Regions from separate parts of the Homo sapiens genome. Here region 2 is linked to region 1. Evidence: fine-mapped expression QTL. A gene starts in region 1. The other region holds a variant in brackets. All regions are shown on one strand. Distances are from middle to middle. Region 1 holds the start of TCL6 (T cell leukemia/lymphoma 6). Region 2 has its middle 8.5 kb from the start of TCL1B.

Region 1 (5,378 bases):
TATGATGACACGTGCCTGTAGTCTTAGCTGCTTGGGAGGCTGAAGTGGGAGGATCTCTTGAGCCCAGGAGGTTGAGACTACAGTGAGCCGTGATTGCACCACTGCACTCTGGCCTGGCACAGAGGGAGATAACCTAAAAAAAAAGAAAAGAAGGAAGAGAAGAGAAATATTGAAATGAATGTGTAAAATGGAAGCAAACTAGGGGATTTGGGGGGAAGTGAGGAAGGGTTGTCTCTCTTCAAAATATAAGCATTTGCATATCCATAGACAAGAATTATTTTTCATTTCTATCGGTTATCTGTAGCTTTCAGAATGGTAAAATAGGTCCCATAGAATTGGAATCAGATAACATGGAAGAGTATGCCCTAGACAGAGAAATATTCTGTTCCTTGCCTCCCACTGAAGCAGAGTGTTTTCTACAAATGCAATCCAGGTAAAGGAGAATACCTGTTAGGAAGCCTGGGAAGAGCATTCCGGGGTGGGGTTGGGATGGGCTGAGAGATGCCAATCAACTTGTGAATACACAGCTAAACAAACTCAACAAAACATGATTTGCTTTTGTTTTTTTGAGACAGAGTCTCACTCTGTCACCCAGGCTGAAGTGCAGTGGCATGATCTTGACTCACTGCAACCTCCACCTCCTGGGTTCAAGCAATTCTCCTTCCTCATCCTCCCAAGTAGCTGGGACTACAGGTACCTGCCACCACGCCTGGCTAAGTTTTTTATATTTTTTAGTAGAGACACAGTTTCGCCATGTTGGCCAGCCTGGTCTTGAACTCCTGACCTCAACACCATGACTGGCCTAAACAAAATATGTTTTAAAAGTCTTCTCCCAGGCTGGGCATGGTGGCTCCCACCTGTAATCCCAGAACTTTGAGAGGCTAAGGCAGGGGTATTGCTTGAACACAGGAGTTCAATACCAGCCAGGGCATCATACTGTGACCCCCATCTCTATAAAAATAAAATAAAAATCGTATCCCTGTAATCCCACCAATTTGGGAGGCTGTGGTGGTAGGATCACTTGAGGCCAGAAGTTTGAGACCAGCCTGGGCAACACAGTAAGACCTCCATCTATACAAAAAGTTTTAAAATTAACCAGGCATGGTGGCGCATGTGTGTAGTCTCAGCTACTTGGGAGGCTGAGAAGGGAGGATCATGTGAGCCCAGGGAGGTAGAGGCTGCAGTAATCCATGATTGCACCACTGCACTCCAGCCTGGACGATAGAGTGAGATCATTAACAAATAAAAACAGTCAAGCTCTGTAAAATATTTGAAGAGATTTATTCTGAGCCAAATATGAGTGACCATGGCCTGTAACACAGCCCTCAGGAGATCCTGAGAACTATGCCCAAGGTGGTCGGGGTGCAGCTTGGTTTTATACATTTTAGGGAGACATGAGATGTCAATCAAATACATTTAAGAAATACATTGGTTCTGTCCAGAAAGGTGGGACAACTTGAATTGTTGGGTGGAGGTTGGGGGCTCCCAGGTTACAGGTAGATTTAAAATTGACTGGTTGACAATTGGTTAAGTTTATCTAAAGATCTGGGCTCAATAGAAAGAAAATGTCTGTGCTGTGATAGGAGGTTGTGGAGACCAAAGTTTTACCATGCAGATGAAGCCTCCGGGTAGCAGGCTTCAGAGAAAATAGATTGTAAATGCTTCTCATCAGAGAGGTATAATGAGTCCTGTCTGACCTCTACTTTCCATCATGGCCTGAACCAGTCTTTCAGGTTAAAAGTACCCTGGCCCAGGAGGAAGTCCATTCAGATGGTTGCAGGGAGGGCGGGGCTTAGAATTTTATTTTTGGTTTACATCCTGTCTCAAAAGAAAAAAAAAAAGAATAAAAGAGTTTTTGGTTTACACCCTGTCTCAAAAAAAAAAAAATGAAAGAAAAGAAAAATCTCAAGGACATCTAAAAGCTGATAAGACAGAAATTACCAGGCCAAAAATAAAAGGGAAGTAGAATGCAGAAAGGGAAAAAAAACAGAATGGAAGCTGCTTTTTCCCTGAGAGCTTTTTCAGAACCTGAAAATCAGAACTTGTTTGAGCCTCCCGGAGACTGGTGGAGAAAGAAGTCCAGCCAGGCCCTGCCCAACTCTAAAGGAAAACCCAAACTTGTCGATATTTGATGAGACTATAAATCGCTTGCCTCTTTTCACTCTCTGGTGCTCCAGCAGCACAGCCCCACACCAACCTTCATCTGGAGTGTCTCAAGACCTTCTGGAATCTTCTCCCACACATACCTCCTTACACAGGTCCATTCTGTGAAAATAAGCAATTCAAAATCTAAGCTGTTGGAACTTTAAAATATTTCGAGCCTTAAGGGAATTTGATCATGGGACCTGAGTCATGTAAACAGGCAGCTGCAACCTTTGTTTCTCTGATTATAGATTAGCCTTTTTCCTTACTTACATTGTTGTGTAAAATGTCGTATATGACTGAAGCGTTCCAGGGAAGACCCCTTTCCTCTTCACTGTTGATCTTCATTATAGATTAACTCCCTCTTTCCTCTCTGACAGAGACTTCATGACCATCACATTGTCTGGGATAGAATGTTAAACACATTCTTAAATTGGAAAGGAAATGAAAACAAGCTGTAGAGAAAAGAAAACAAGGTGGAGGCAGGGGAACAACCTATAATTAATTATAGGTTGTAACTCATAAACCAGCCTTGCATAGAAAATGTTAAACAAGAAAGTTAAAACAAGAAAAGTTATACAAGAAAATGTTCTACAAGGTTACTAAATGTCTTTGCTTTCTGCCTATGTAAGCAAGACTTTAACTTTTAACTTCAGGGCCCTGGCCCCATTTTCCTAGAGTCTGTGTTTCTCAGATGGCCATTCCCAGCTTTTGGCTTGAATAAACTCTTTAAAACTGGATTCTGGGCTGGGTGCAGCGGCTCACGCCTGTAATCCCAGCACTTTGAGAAGCTGAGACAGGAGAAATCACTTAAGCCCAGGAGTTCGAAACCAGCCTGGTCAATAAAGTGAGACCGATTAAAGAGAAGTAAACTTAAAAACGAACAAAAACAACTTTGTTTTTAAAACTTAAAAACTTAAAAACAACGAAAACCCTGGATTCTGATCCTTTCAATTACTTTATATTGACAATTCTACTATGGGTGCTGCCCAATCAGCCTTGTAAAGCACAGGGCTGACCACTTCAACTCCCTGCTGAGGGTTGAATCTGGAATAAAATCCAGATTCCAGAGCTACGGTGCCCTTAGATCTGGGGCTGTTGCTTTTGTACTTCTGTTTTTCCACTTTACTTAGCTGAAGCACAATCCCTACAGCAAGCTAAGAAAGGAAAAGGTCCATTCCAAAACCCTTCGCTCCCTAGACCACTGCTCTGTGTGCAGACAACGAAAACAGCCGAGAGTTCACACAAAAGGGAAGGACTAACTGCCCGGGGCAGGCTTCAAGGAATGCCTGTTAAGCCCCAGGGAGGAAGTGGCTGTTGACTTGGGAAGAGTCCGTTGGGTAGTCAAGGGCTAAGGTGGTGGTTGACATGAAGGCAAATTTTCCATGCCCTGGTGAGAAGTTGGAATCCTTGCTGTGAACGTTGGGTAGTACAGTTTGCAGGACCATTTGCTTGGCTATTGGGTCCCACCTGTTGACAGGTGCCAAGCCTGATTTTCCTTGGCCTTCCCTCCTGATTTAGCTGAACACCAACCTTCTCAACACAACCCCGAAGTACACCTTGCTCAGTTTTTAACAGAGCTGCTAGATTTCAAGGCATGATTCTCAGCACTGTGTCCGGAATTGGTGGGTTCTTGGTCTCACTGACTTCAAGAATGAAGCCGTGGACCCTCGCGGTGAGTGTTACAGCTCTTAAGGTGGCGTGTCTGGAGTCTGTCCCTTCTGATGTTCAGATGTGTTCGGAGTTTCTTCCTTCTGGTGGGTTCGTGGTCTCGCTGGCTCAGGAGTGAAGCTGCAGACCTTCGCGGTGAGTGGTACAGCTCTTAAGGTAGCGTGTCTGGAGTTGTTCATTCCTCCCGGTGGGCTCGTGGTCTTGCTGGGCTCAGGAGTGAAGCTGCAGATCTTCGCGGTGAGTGTTACAGCTCATAAAAGCAGCGTGGACCCAAAGAGTGAGCAGTAGCAAGATTTATTGCAAAGAGCAAAAGAACAAAGCTTCCACAGTGTGGAAGGGGACCCGAGCGGGTTGCCAATGCTGGCTCGGGCAGCCTGCTTTTATTCTCTTATCTGGCCCCACCCACATCCTGCTGATTGGTATAGGGATAAGCAAGTACCTAGCCACCACCATCTTTGCTCCCAGCGTGGCTCACCTGCCTAGCTCAAACCTTCATGGAGCTGTGATCTGTACCCCAGGATACAAACAAAAGTGGGCACCATCCCATGGTCCATATCAAATTCATGACCAGCTCCCAGAGGACCCTCCTGCTGCCATGCTGATCCTCAGGCTGCAGACCTGCTTGACTCTTCACACCTGGCTACTACTGCACTCCAGGATTCTCAATATGACCCCTCCATCCACCCAGCTGCCAGGACCAGAAACCCTGGCCATGCAGTAAGAATTCACTCAACAAACACTGAGCCCCAACTCTGGTCAGGCACTGGGGACAAATCAGATGTGGCTCTACCCTGCTGCAGCTTGCAGTGTGACTGGGAGTGATGACGGTCCCTAGCCTCAGCCTGTCACCTTGCATCCGTCAGTCCCACATCAGCCCGTTTACCTCAGGCTCAGATTGTCCATCGCAGGGACCATGCAGCTCAGTGTTGGCCCTGCCTCTGGGCTTGCCCCTCCAGCTCCCCCTTCACTCTGCTTCCAGAGATACATTGCCCATTCTAATTTAATTTTACCTCTTCCCAAATAAAACTCCTCAGTAGATGCCAATTGTTTTTAGGATAAAATTAACCACCTTGTTTTGGCACCCACAGGACTGCATGACCCTCATGCCAGGCCCCCAGCTCAGACATGTTGGTTCAGATGGAGCACCTGGCAGTTCCTTGAATGGGTCACACCCATCACACCTCACACTGCTGCCATGCTGGCCTTGTGCCATGAATGTCCCGCCTCCTCCTGCATGGTGCCTTGGTCAGATAGGCTTCGACTTGTCTCCCATATTTCAGAAAGTCTTCCCTGCCCCTCCAAACCAGGCTCCATGCCCTCTGGTTCCCCATAGCGCCCAAGCCACGCTCTGCAACAGCACACATCGTACTGAATGGTAAATATTTACAGTCTGTCTTCTACACTAGACCATGAGGGCCTTGAGGACGAAGACAATAAAGCCATTCATTTCTGCATCATCAGAAACTAGCCCAGCACTCAGTATATATGTACCTGGTGAATATTTACTATATGAATGAATGTAATGATTAAGTAATGTGTCTAGACTTCATGTTTGGCCCACCGGC
Region 2 (5,378 bases), 26 kb before region 1:
ACAGCAGGGGTCAGTTCACCTGCTCTCCAGCGTTTTCAGCTCCTGCCAAGCTGTTCTCAGGAACTCCACCCCCTGGTGAGCCTTTGTCTTCTCAGGAGACCACAGGGAGCCTGGGCAACACGGTGAGACCCCACTCTACAAAAAATACAAAAAGTACCCGGGAGTGGTGGCACGTGCCTGTGGTCCCAGCTACTCCGGGGCTGAGGTGGGAGGATCACTTGAGCCTGAGAGGTCCAGGCTGCAGTGAGCTGTGATTTTGCCACTGCATTCCTGCCTGGGTGACAGAAAGAGACACTGCCTCAAAAAAAAAAAAAAAGACCACGGGAAATTCCACTCTACTTTCCTGAGGTCTTCAGCTTAGCCTGTCAGCCTCTCACATCACACAGCTTCACAGTTCAGCACCTCTGAAGGAGGAAGCTGGCTGGATGTTTGAGGCCCCCCCAAGCCTCTAATTTGATGACTCCACAGCATCCCCCGACTGGACTCAGCACCAATTTCAGTCTTTGCCCAGGATTATCAAATGACAGGAAGGGAAAGGCATCTGCAGATGCTCACCTCTGAGCTGTCCTCCCTTCTCCAGAATTTTACTTCCTCTGGCCCTTGTTGCTTCCATAGCTCCCCGATGGTTTGGAAAATACAATCTTTATTTTTATTTAGATTTTCCATAGCGTGGCTGTAGTGTTACCAGAAAGGGGTCCCAATCCAGACCTCAAGAGAAGGTTCTTGGACCTCATGCAAGAATTTGGGGCAAGTCCATAGGCTAAAGTGAAAGCAAGTTTATTAAGAAAGTAAAGGAATATAGAATGGCTACTCCATAGGCAAAGCAGCCCTGAGGGCTGCTGGTTGGCTATTTTCATGGTTATTTCTTGATTATATGCTAAACAAGGGGTGGATTATTCATGAGTTTTCCAGGAAAGGGGTGGACAATTGGAATGGAGGGCTCCTCCCCTTTTAGACATATAGGGTAACTTCCTGATGTGTCCATGTCATTTGTAAACTGTCACGGTGCTGGTGGGAGTGTCTTTTATCATGTTAATTTTATAATTAGTGAATAATCAGCAGTGAGGACAACCAGAGATCACTTTTGTCGCCATCTTGGTTTTGGTGGGTTTTGACTGGCTTTTCTTATCACAATCTGTTTTATCAGCAAGGTCTTTGTGACGTGTATCTTGTGCTGACCTCCTGTCTCATCCTGTGACTTAGAATGCCTAAGCTCATGGGAATGCAGCCCAGTAGGTCTCAGCCTTATTTTACTCAACCCCTATTCAAAATGGAGTCACTCTGATTCAAACGCCTCTGAAAGTAGCATTGGCCTGTTGCCAACCACTTCATCTCACCCTAAGAGAGGGAGAGCTGTTTTTTTTTTTTTTTTTTTTTTAAGGTAGAAGGAATTAAATTATGTCTTTGTGCTGATGGAATTGATGCTGGAGAGACTGGACTACAGGCAAGGTATAAACTGAAGTGGTGAGAGCCCAAGGGGATGACTTGGCTTGAAGGAAGGAGGGGCTCTTCTTCCAGTGTAACTGAAAGGAACAAGGAGAATCGGCTCAGATGCAAGTAAGGGTTTTAGGTTTGGGGGCAAGAAGATGAAATTCCTTTCCTCCACCTTTCACAACATGAAATTACAAATGGTTATTTTGTAATTTTCTAAGACCTAACCTTGGAAAATAAACACGTGAAAATATTAAGAATATGTTTATGACCTTCGATAGGGATGATCTTCTTAAAGATGACAAACAAAGCAAAAGTATGACTTTTTTTTTTTTTTTTTTTTTTTTTGAGATGGAGTTTTGTTCTTGTTGCCCAGGCTGGAGTGCAATGACACCATCTCGGTTCACCATAACCTCCGCTTCCCGGGTTCAAGCAATTCTCCTGTCTCAGCCTCCTGAGTAGCTGGGAATACAGGCACGTGCCACCACACCAGCTAATTTTGTATTTTTAGTAGAGACAGGGTTTCTCCGTGTTGGTCAGGTTGGTCTCGAACTCCCGACCTCAGGTAATCTGCCTGCCTCAGCCTCCCAAAGTGCTGGGATTACAGGTATGAGCCACCGAAAAGTATGACTTCTTATGACAATACATGAAGTTTTAAAAGTGACCAGAGTAAGAGAAGATAGTAACAATATATAGCAAAGTATTAGTTTCCAGTATATGTAATGAACTCTTACAGATCAGTAAGTAAAGCGAATAACCCATTGGAAAAATAGGGAACAGCTAGAATTCACAGAAAAGGAGATGAAAACGGCCAGTTGCTGTATGAGAAGATGTTCAATCTCACAAGTAATCAAGAAAATGCAAATTTTAAAAGTGAGATACATTTTTAAAATCTATAGTAGTGCCAAACAAAAGCACTTGGCAATATCAAATGTTGGCAAGTGGTGTCGTTTGCCTTATTGACCAGGTCCCTTCTTCACAAGGAGCTGGTGAGGGAGAACCAGGCTCTTCCTCCCGTGGCCACCCTAGCCAGTCAGTTTCCACAGAACTAACACACCAGG[C/A]TGGGCAGGCCAATGCAAGTTTCTTTACTGAAAGGTGGGTCCGTTTCAAAAGGACAGTTTGGACACAGAATAGACAAACATTAGAGTTTGAGAGTTTTCCCTTGAGTTTTGCAAGACAAAACATCTAGTAACTTCAGTATTCACCAGGAAAAATTCCCCAGTGCCTCTCCCTCCAGCCCTTTCTCCTGCCTGCCTTCAGGATCACCCCTTGTCTCATAGGTTTTCATTTTTCAGTTCTCCTTCTTGGATAGAGTCTATCCTGCCCACAGGTGAGCCCTCTCTTCCCATGCCAAATTTCCATCTAACCCTTGGTCTGAAGCAGGTGCAGGCTTCAGCCAGGTGGAAGCTGCTGGGTGGGTGCTGCCTAGCCTTTGACGGTTGGGTAAGGAGAAGCGGGGTGAAGTTAGGGTGATGGGCTCCAGTCTGTTGGCCAAGGTTGAGCCTGGCTTCTCTCATTCAAGTTTCCTCATTGGCAAGAACTGTAAGCCTGCCAGTTCTTTTATTAATAGATCTATAAAGTTGGCACCTCTCCCAAGGGCAGATCTTTTCTCCCCCATAGGACAAGACAGTCTAAAACCAAATTGAGGAAACAACACTTTCTCTGTTAGCACGGGCTCGTCCTGCCCTTGCAAACTTTGGTCTCATTATTGGCAGAGGGGCTTTTGATTTCTCCCCAGCTCCACTGAGAGGGGGTGGGGAGAGCTGGATTTATCTTTCATAGCTGAGCTTTGTTGGAAGAGGACCAAGGGATAAATTCATTCAGCCCAGCCATTCTTTCTCCTTCCCCAGACACATGGAAAAAGAAGGTTCCTACAATGGAATAGTATTTTCCATTTGCAAATGAGTTAGGAAGCCAGGGGCACACAGCATCAAGCCTATGGCAGAACTCTTGCCTCCCTTTCAGTCAGAATAATTGTCTCCCACCTTGTATTCAGACTTTTGTTATCACATCAGCCTCACTCTGACTTGGCTTACAGCGTGTAGGTTTATATTGCCTGGATCCTATTTCAGGGTTTCTATCTCTGTCTCCATTAGACTCTGGCTCCCGAACAAAAAGGGGACCTGGAATATTTGAAAGTGAAATGGGAGAGTTCCCTGACCCCTGTCCCATGATGTGTGACAGGGGCATAGCTCTTATGTTCAGCCGCCACATCCTCAAACCCCTTACCGGAGGGGGAGCATGCAGACGGGCAGGTGCAGGAGCCAGGGCAAGCACTTTTTGGGCTCCGGACCCATGGCAGCACCTATGGGTGGGTGTCTGCAACTCCCAGAGTCCAAGTGGGCACATGTTACAGCGTTCTGTTAGCCTTGCTGTCCGTGGATGACTTAAGTGTTAGACAGTTCACTGGACCTAGGTCTTTGTCCAATGTCCAGGAAGAATCAGGTCACACATAAACTTGAAGGATGAATGCAGCGGTTTCACTGAGTGGTGGAGGTGGCTCTCAGCAGGATGGATGGGGAGCTGGAAGGGGGATGGAGTGGGAAGATGATCTTCCCCTGGAGTTTGGCTGTCCAGTGGCTAATCTCCTCTCCAACCGCCCCCAGCCAAATTCCTCTCAACATTCAGATGTTCCTTTTCTTCTCTCTGCTGTGCCATTCTGCCATTCTTCTGCTCTTCTGTTTGTCTCCTCATCTGCTTCTGGAGCCTGGGGTCTGGGGTTTATACAGGTATAGGATAGGGGACATGACGGGCCAAAAGGCAACTTTTGGGCATGAAAACAGGAATGCCTCTTCCCATTTAGGGCTGCAGGTTTCCAGGTTTGAGGGTAGGGCCTTTGCCAGGGAACCACCCTCTTCTACCCAGTATTTCTGGGTCTCCTGTCTGTATCAAAAGCATATAGGATTTGATGGTGAACAGTCCCAAATCCAAAGGTTAGTTCTACATCTGACTAGTTGTGTGACTTTGACCTTATAAACTTTTTGAACTTCCTACTCCTCACCAGTAACACAAAAATGCTATCTACCTTACTATGTTGTAAGAAATGGTAATCACATTTGTAAAGTCCCTGGCACACGGTAGATCATCAATGATAATTTATCAGCTGGGGGACAGAGACCATTTCTTATTCATCTCTATGTCCTCAGCATCAAACCAGTGCCAGAAACATTGGAAGGGCCCAGAGAGTATTTGTTGGATTGAAATATCCTTTAGTCAAATTGTTTCCTGGGTCAAAACAGTTCTAGCCGAGTTCAACATGAACCCAGAGGTGTGCTGAAAATATAATTCATTCTGACTCTCTTCCGCCAACTCCTCATAGAAAATGTACTCAGGAATGAAAGTGTTCACAGCAAAACAAAGGCCCTGGGTATTGAGAGTTTGCAGTGAAATAGAGAGGTCTGAGGGGTCAGGAGAAACAAAGCATCAGTCCGCACAGACGGTCCCCTGGGGTCTCTGTAATTATCATGTCTTCTTTTGCAGCTCTGCTGTGTGACTGGTCTATTTAGGTTAGCAGAGTTGCCGAGGTGAGAGGTGCACTCTGATTGGCCATGGAGGCTGCCCTTGTGTGCCTGGAGCTTTTCCTGACCATGGTACAAAGCTTCCTCATGCAGTGCATGAAGATCCACCTGCATCTTCCCTCTGCTGCCTCTCCCTCTGGCCCTTTGGGCTGTGGTTTTAAATGGTTCTTCATTTAATCCATCAGAATGACCCAGAAGGAAGCAATTGTTTGTAAATGGGTCACTCCCTCAAGTGTGGTGGCAGCCTTCTTATGATGAAGAAATTGGGTCTTTGCAAATAGTAAGTGTCTAACCAAAGACTGGGGTGAGGGGAGAGAGGCCCGCATGTGTTACAAGCTCCTCATGGAAACTAGGCAGTATTCCTATCTTTGTTTTAGAGATGAAGAATCAAGGCTCTGAAAGCAACCATCAGGATGGGCACGGTGGCTC

Evidence for each region. PIP is the estimated chance that this variant, and not a neighbour inherited with it, causes the effect.
Region 2: its variant is the best candidate, but not a certain one, in a credible set for the expression of TCL6 in whole blood (TOPMed, PIP 0.67).

Annotation. Positions count from the first base shown.
Region 1 is chr14:95,649,264-95,654,641 of GRCh38, reverse strand. It overlaps TCL6 (T cell leukemia/lymphoma 6), which reads right to left and starts at 2,545. Exons shown (of 8, transcript NR_028288.2): 1 at 2,416-2,545; 2 at 2,153-2,265; 3 at 16-133.
Region 2 is chr14:95,675,217-95,680,594 of GRCh38, reverse strand. No RefSeq gene overlaps it. Among named protein-coding and RNA genes, the nearest start is that of TCL1B, 8.5 kb to the left of the region's middle. The variant C/A (reference allele first, on the strand shown) is at 2,493.